2 linked regions of the Homo sapiens genome follow. The protein of the gene in region 1 purifies or fractionates together with the protein of each later gene. This does not show direct contact. Each region holds a gene or a part of one and is shown on either strand. Other genes may lie near its edges.

Region 1 (3,819 bases):
AGTGATCTGCCTGCCTCAGCCTCCCAACATGCTGGGATTACAGGCGTGAGCCACTGTGCCTGGCCCCTGGTACTGTTTTATGACTGGCTTCCTTTACTTGATACCATATCAGGCAGTCTTGATGTGCTTCATGCCACATAGGCACATTTGGACTTCCTTCATTCTTTTTTGTCTTTTTTCCTTTTTTTAATTTGGACTTCCTTCATTCTTTTTAATGTTTGCATATCACATCCTAGAATGGATGCATCCTGATTTATTTGCGCTACTTTCTGTCTTTCACTATTACAAGCAGTGCTGCAGTGAACATTATTATCCCTACCACCCTGTAAACATTTGTTTACAGTTCCAAAGATTTATGTAGGTATAAATGAACATGATATTTTTTATTAGATATTTCCAAATTACCTTCCAAAAAACATTGTAACAGTTTATACTTATAACACCAAGTATTCTATCGTTGCTGCAAGGTCTTCATCATTGTTTAGTCTTTGCCAATCTAATAAGCAAAAAAATGTTTCACTTTTCAGTTTGTATTTATTTAACCATGAGGGAAGTTGAGCATTTCTTTATACTGATTACTGTCTTTCCTGTGAATTTGCGGGCATCTCATGCTTGTTTGTGGTGATGTCCCTTTTAGCCCAGAGCTGTAGTCTGGATGCTTCCCTTTCTGCCAATTTTCTGGGAGCTCTTCAGTGCCCTTCTGTGGGAGCCCATTGAGGTTTTTGTGGAAGCAGAGCTCTAAGCCTGTGTGTTCCGGTCTCCACCAGGTGGCCCCAATGTCAGTGTATGCTTGTCTGGGCAATGATGCGGCTGCCATTCGTGATGCCTTCCTGACCCGATTGCAGAGCAAAATTGAGGACATGCGCATCAAAGTCATGATTCTAGAGTTCCTCACTGTTGCAGTAGAGACCCAGCCAGGCCTCATCGAACTGTTTCTGAACCTGGAAGTTAAGGATGGCAGTGATGGCTCAAAGGTAAGCCTGTAACCTGGGATGACACTGGGAGTTGGCTCACTGGGAGGCAGATGCTGGGCTCTGCAAGTACAGCTGCTGGCAGTGGCTGTGGAACTGAACTCTTACCTGTCCCTTCTTGCAGGAATTCAGCCTTGGGATGTGGAGCTGTCTCCATGCAGTGCTGGAGCTGATTGATTCCCAACAGCAAGATCGATACTGGTGCCCACCCCTGCTGCATCGTGCCGCCATTGCCTTTTTGCATGCTCTGTGGCAGGATCGGAGGGACAGTGCCATGCTGGTCCTCCGAACCAAGTAAGTCTGCCTCTGGGAGTAGTTTCATTGTTCTGGTCTATAAAATGGGAGTAATAATAGCTCTTATCCCAGAGGTTTGTTGTGACAGTTCACTGGGAATAAGAGTGCTTAGTCCTGGTTCAATACCTGGGAGTTTTACACTAATTCTCTTTCTAATGCTGCTGCAAGTATTAAGGATCTTTAAATATTAAGCACCTGGAAGGTTCAGTTGCTTTTGTGTTCCTGCCTTTTGCTAACTAGCTGCATCAAAACTCATTATTCTTGAGAAACAGTAGATTCAGGAGAGAGGCGCTTGCTCAAGTCACTGGATTGAATGAAACATTCCGTTCTATTGGACCTGCTGGCACAAAGGGAAGGAGTGTTAAAAGGCTAAATTTGGGAGTCTGCTGTCTTATTTCCCTCCCTCCTCTTCTGTGGGGCTTTTGGGAATCTACAGTGGAAGGAATCTTGAAGAGTTTTTATTGATCAACTCTATAATGCATAAGTGTGATTCATGAGAGGAAAATGTAATTTTATCTATGGAAACCTTTCATTTATACGGGAACAACTGACTTATCAGACACATATTAGGATTGAGACTGGTAAAATATGAAGTGACCACCAAAGGGAGCTTGAGAGAGGAGAAAATGACTGTGAGAGGGAAAAAGTTATGATTTCAAACATTTATTTCCTTTTTAGACCCAAGTTTTGGGAAAATTTAACCAGTCCGCTGTTTGGAACCCTTTCTCCTCCCTCTGAAACATCAGAGGTAAGCTGTGGCAGAGGGCAGGATGGTGGCTACAAGTCCCTTGGAGGAAAGGCTGTGGGCTGTGAGATGGGGCCGTAGACAATGATACCTCCCCTAATTAAACAACAGAATGTTCCCTTCACTAGAAACGTCTTTCTCAGGGAAGTGCCAGCTTTCTGTCCCTTTGATGTCTTGCTTTGGGAAGGAAAGTGGTTTGCGCTACTGTGTGTTGGTGGCTCTGTGGTCTTCTCCATTCAGTTGGAGACGTTGTGGACCTGACGCCTCTGCTCTTGCAAGTCAGGACATTCACATTCAACAGGGGTTGTGCTAACTTGTTCTGCAAGTGTTGGGCCCCTGCTCTGTTCCCTGTTTGATATACTGGGGGAGATCAGTGATCAGAGATGTGATAATTGCCTGTTCTGCTATCTCCACAGCCCAGCATCCTGGAAACCTGTGCCCTAATCATGAAGATAATTTGCTTGGAGATATACTATGTAGTAAAGTGAGTACTTTCCCCTCTTGAGATTTTAACTGAAGGTTGGGGGAGTGGGAGTTGGTGGCCTACCACTGGGTGCATGGCTGGAAGAGCCAAGGCAGAGGAGAGAACTGGTTTGGAACCATTCATGGAAGGCCAGTGAGCTGTGTTCCTGGCCAATCCACCGATGGCATTTATGATTGTCAGAAAGAGTTATTGTGAAGCAAACTCCATGCAACTGGGATTTTATGGAGGAGGAATCCTGGAAAGGCCTCAGCCTAACCCACACGTTGGAGGTGTCCTGGAGCCGTCTGCCTTTAAGCCCATGCAAGGTCGTTTTCTCTGCCTCAACAAGGGTCTGTACCCATTATATTCCCATCTGCTTTCAAAATCTAACTGGAGGTTTTTTCTTGACACTGTAGGGGTTCATTAGACCAGTCATTAAAGGATACACTGAAGAAATTTTCCATCGAGAAACGCTTTGCCTACTGGTCAGGGTATGTCAAGTCATTGGCAGTTCACGTGGCCGAAACAGAAGGCAGCAGCTGCACCTCCTTGTTAGAGTACCAGATGCTGGTGTCCGCCTGGAGGATGCTTCTCATCATTGCCACCACTCATGTAAGACCCTTTTGGGGAGAGTTTTCACTTTGGTACCTTAGCAATGATGTGTTGACATGAGCCTAGCAGATACAGCTCCTTGTGCGGAAGAATTAATCAGGGTTTATCCCTGAGAGCTAAACTGTAATAGGTTCTATGCTGAGAGATTGGGACTGTGGGGTATTTGAGGGTGTTGGGTCCAGGAGACCATTAAGAGGAATGCAGAGAAGTGATTTGAAATCCTTTCAGAGTTCCTAAAGCCTCCTGTACCTCCCTTAGGCCTTGGCTGGGTCTTAGCTGCTCCCTGGCTGCATCTGCCTCTTGTGCAAAGGCATAACTGTCTTCTCGTGCTGTGTACCTTGTAGATGCTAGGTCAATAAATACTTGTTGACTAGTCAGCAGGGAGCTGTGACAGCTGCAGCAGCACCCTCTCTAAAAAGCAGTTTGTCATTGGTTCTAGAAACTGCATTTCCTGGTCTTAGAAAAAGAACAGAGGCCATTGTCTCTGTACTCTGTCTACTGGGAGTTGGTTTTGAGAGAGAGAGATAACATCTGGAAGAAATGCATTGTTCTTGGCTTTTTTGTGGTTTGACTCCGTCACGCTGTATCATAAGGACTTGGTATTGAAGTGTTCTTTCTTGGGGTATCCAGATTAATTTTTTTTTTTTTTTCTTGAGACGGAGTCTTGCTCCGTCACCCAGGCTGGAATGCAGTGGTGCGATCTTGGCTTACTGCAACCTCCGCCTTCCGGGTTC
Region 2 (3,819 bases), on another chromosome or scaffold:
AGTATGCCTTTCTGTTTGGTTCAGTAAACCAATATCATTCAGGCCCCCCAACCTTATAATTTCTTTTTTTTTTTTTTTTTTGAGACAGAGTTTCACACTGTTGCCCAGGCTGGAGTGTGGCGCGATCTCAGCTCACAGCAAGCTCCGCCTCCCGAGTTTACACCATTCTTCTGCCTCAGCCTCCCAAGTAGCTGGGACTACAGGCACCCGCCACCACGTCCGGCTAATTTATAATTTCTTATGGAAGATATATTTGAACAAAATATATCTAAGAATAAATTGAAATAATCCCCTGCCTCTTTCCCACCAATATTTTTCCCCTTTCCTGAAGCTACCATTTTTATGGTCTACTTTTGATGCTTCTAAAATATAAGAAGTAGCTTGGGGCCAAGGGGACAGCAGGATAAAAAGACCCCAGTTATTTATTTAAGACTGTTACCACATGAGTATGTGAATATATTTAAGAGCACAAAACATATCAACTAGCATTATGTGAATTAGGATGCTTTTGGCTGCAATAAGCAGAAAAGCCATCCCAGAGTCACTAAACAATTTTTAAAAAAATAAAAAGGAATCACTCCATGTCCCAAGTCCCAAGGGACGCATCTGTAGCCCCTTAATAATAAGAGGCTCATCTTTCCCTTCACCGTCCTCAGCATGTGGGTTATCCTCAGCTAGCATGTCTCACAGTCATAAGATGGCTGTGCCAATTCTGGACATCCCATGCCAAAGAAATGATTACTGTTCAGCAGAAGCTAATTAACTTTATTTTATGTTGTGTCTCTTGTACTTAACAGTAAGGAAACGTGTCCCATGAACTCTCTAGTAGACTCCCCAATATCTTGCTGGAGAGACTTAGGTCATATAAATACCTCTCTAAACCAGTCTTTAAGCAGGAGGATGGTCTTATTGTGAATGGCTCCAGCTAGTAGTTTCAACCTTCACTACACATTAGAATCACTTGGAGGAGGACTTAAGCTCCCTTGATGCTTACAATGTGCAGCCACAGTTAGCCTACATCAGGGTTTCTCAACCTCAGCACTATTGATATTTTGGCTCAGATCATTGTTTTAGGGGCTGTCTTGCACATTGTGGAATGTTTAGCAGCATCCTTGGCCTCTACCCACTAGACGCCAGTAGCACCTCTCCAATTGTGACAGTCAAAAATGTATACAGGCATTGCCAAATGTTCCTTGGGGGTTAAGGTTGCCCCAGGTTGCCCCACTCTCTTAAACTAATTAGCGTTTACCCTTAGGTCTCACATGGGAGAGGTGGACATCCAATTAAATTAGTACTCTGCCAGCAGGGAAGGAAGAAATGGATGCTAGTAGGTAACCAACAGTGTCTGCTGCATGGAGTAAGGCTGTTTTCAGTTTAGAATCTTTGAAACTAACATGAGGTAGCTTCTGTATGTTTACTATTCTCAGGTGTATCATCTTTGTAACACTGGCAATTGGAGATGTTCCTGATCACCTGTGGCACCTATAACCCTTTACCAGCTTTCCAGCACTTGGTGACAGTTTGTCTCAATTGTCCATAAATTGACACTTGGATTAGCCTGGTCTGTCCCAACAAGATTATCAGCTCCTTGACAGCAGGGATATGCCCTCTCTTCATGGTGTATTCCTCATGTCATGTTAGAGATGCAGTAGGTATTTAGCAGTTATATTGGTTCACTGTGTATTCATTGAGTGTTTATTATGTATAAGGCAGTTTAATTAAATTTCAGTGCGTTGAAATACTCATATCTGTGTATTCACAGCTGCCAATGTCTGGTTAGTTCAAGGAAAAGTTACAAGGACTTCATCAAGTTCTACTTTACTAAAGAGGAAGAAGTGAGCAAGACCTTGGGGTGGGGAGAAGGCCCCTACGTTGATCAAACTTTCAGGCCCTTTAGAGGTGATCCTTTTGACACATAAACGACAGACACACACTCTCTCTTTTATACAGCTTGATTCAGGTGAGCATACATGTCCATAAAAGCATAATATTTTTTAAAAGTTAGATCAGAATATATCTTTTCCTGTCCTGTTAGGTAATTGTTGATGAACAGCACTTGGATTTCCTGTTGGCATATACTATTTCGGCTATTCATCAGTGTAGTTCCTGGACACACAGGGAAATTCTTCAAGCCCTGGCAGCTCTGGTGTACTGCAATGGCTCCAAATGTCAAAAGGTAGTTTAAAGTGCTTTATCCTTCCTTTGAAAGGCCAGGAGCACAGACTCTGGTGCCAACACTGTGTTCAGGTTTCTATCTTGCCACTAATCTCTAGCAATTCTTATTCAACCACTCTGGGCCTTGTTTCCTCATGTATAAAATAGTTACTCTGAGGATGAAGTGAGACAATACGTGTCAAGTTCATGGCCCTCGGTAAATAGTAAACATTATTCTTAATATTATCATTACCCATCAGCCATACGGCCACACTAAAGAGCATCAGCAGCTACCTAGGCTGGGAGTAATGATCATTATTGATGCTTTTTGGCATATCTTTGCATATCCATCGGAGACATTTATCTAACAGCTAGTCTTTTGGTGCTTAACTGCCATTTAGTTAAAAAAAGAAAGAAGAAATCTGTCTAAAACATAATATTTTCCTAGAAGCTTTTCTTTGACCTACATTGACTCTTATTTTTCTTAGTACCTCCCAGAGCTGCTAGGCAACACCGGACTCTTAATGAAGTTGAGTGACTTGGCTCAGTCTGATCCTGAAGTCAGGAGAGCTGCAGTACATTGTATGGCAAACTTATGTCTCAGGTATGTGGCTCCAGTCAAGTTTCTCAATGGTAATAAGATAGTGCCTCTATTGGGCCCTTTGTAGGTAGTTCCCTGTGCCTGAAGCCAGAGCCAACTTAGACAAATAACTAACTTTGCATTTCCCATGTACTTTACTAATAAAATCATCTTATGTTGTTTGTTAATTTTAGTATTGCTTGTAAAGAAGGAAAAAATAGACTAGGACCATATTCCTAAAATGTGGTAATAGTGACATAATGTGCAGTATGTCAAAATTTTGTTTTCTATTGATATAAATTCTAAGCATATTAAGTTTTTAGAAGGATATATTCATGCAAATTTTAAGTGCTGGTGAGATGTATCTGTAAAGGGCAATTTCTTTTCTTTGAAGAAGATGGAAACAGCCCCAGCTGCTCACCCTCGATTCTCACAGTAGGCAGTAGACAATGAGCAGCACAAATGTGAACTCGTCTCTGCATAGCACAGTGCTGTCCAGCGAGTAGGAAGGCAGGTACAGATGTGTGATTCTAGCTTGACAGGACCTGTCTGGATTATTTCCCTCCTAGGACTGAACAGCAGAACTAAAACAAGATTTTTCTTTCTCCATAGTTCTTCTACCACAAACTTCTGTAACCTTTCTGTATGGAAACCACCCTTCCTCTATATTCATTCTAGCCCTGTGCCTGTCCCCCAGCAGTAACTAATTAACCAAAATAATAATTTTCCATAGCATAGTTGCACTCAAGGGTATATTCCAACTCTAATAGTCTATATTACTGCTATTTTTAATTAGTCTTTTGCAAGCCTCATTTTAAAGGAGACTGAGTTTGAGTTGTTTTCTCTGTATGCGTTTAGTGTGCCAGGACAGCCGTATTTGGAGGAGCCCTACCAAAATGTCTGTTTCCAAGCTTTTCTGACTATTTTACAGTCTCCAAAATCATCTGATATGGATGATATCACATTTTGCATGGTAAGTGGACTATCATTGACGTAGTGAATGTTGCGGATGTGTCTAGAAGCAGATTGGAAAAGTGTTACTAACGAGTTTAATTTGCACCATTAGCTTCGTCTAGAGAAATACA

Evidence for each region.
Region 2: the proteins of NUP188 (region 1) and HEATR6 fractionate together in Homo sapiens (co-fractionation; one large-scale study listed by BioGRID). This does not show direct contact.

The regions. Positions count from the first base shown.
Region 1 is NC_000009.12:128,992,430-128,996,248, forward strand, and holds part of NUP188 (nucleoporin NUP188), read left to right. Parts: intron 1-767; coding exon 768-974; intron 975-1,095; coding exon 1,096-1,265; exon of another isoform or gene 1,266-1,605; intron 1,606-1,943; coding exon 1,944-2,013; intron 2,014-2,426; coding exon 2,427-2,494; intron 2,495-2,889; coding exon 2,890-3,085; intron 3,086-3,819. UniProt on the Homo sapiens protein: Component of the nuclear pore complex (NPC), a complex required for the trafficking across the nuclear envelope. Required for proper protein transport into the nucleus.
Region 2 is NC_000017.11:60,072,103-60,075,921, reverse strand, and holds part of HEATR6 (HEAT repeat-containing protein 6), read left to right. Parts: intron 1-2,035; coding exon 2,036-2,176; intron 2,177-2,642; coding exon 2,643-2,758; intron 2,759-3,592; coding exon 3,593-3,707; intron 3,708-3,819. UniProt on the Homo sapiens protein: Amplification-dependent oncogene.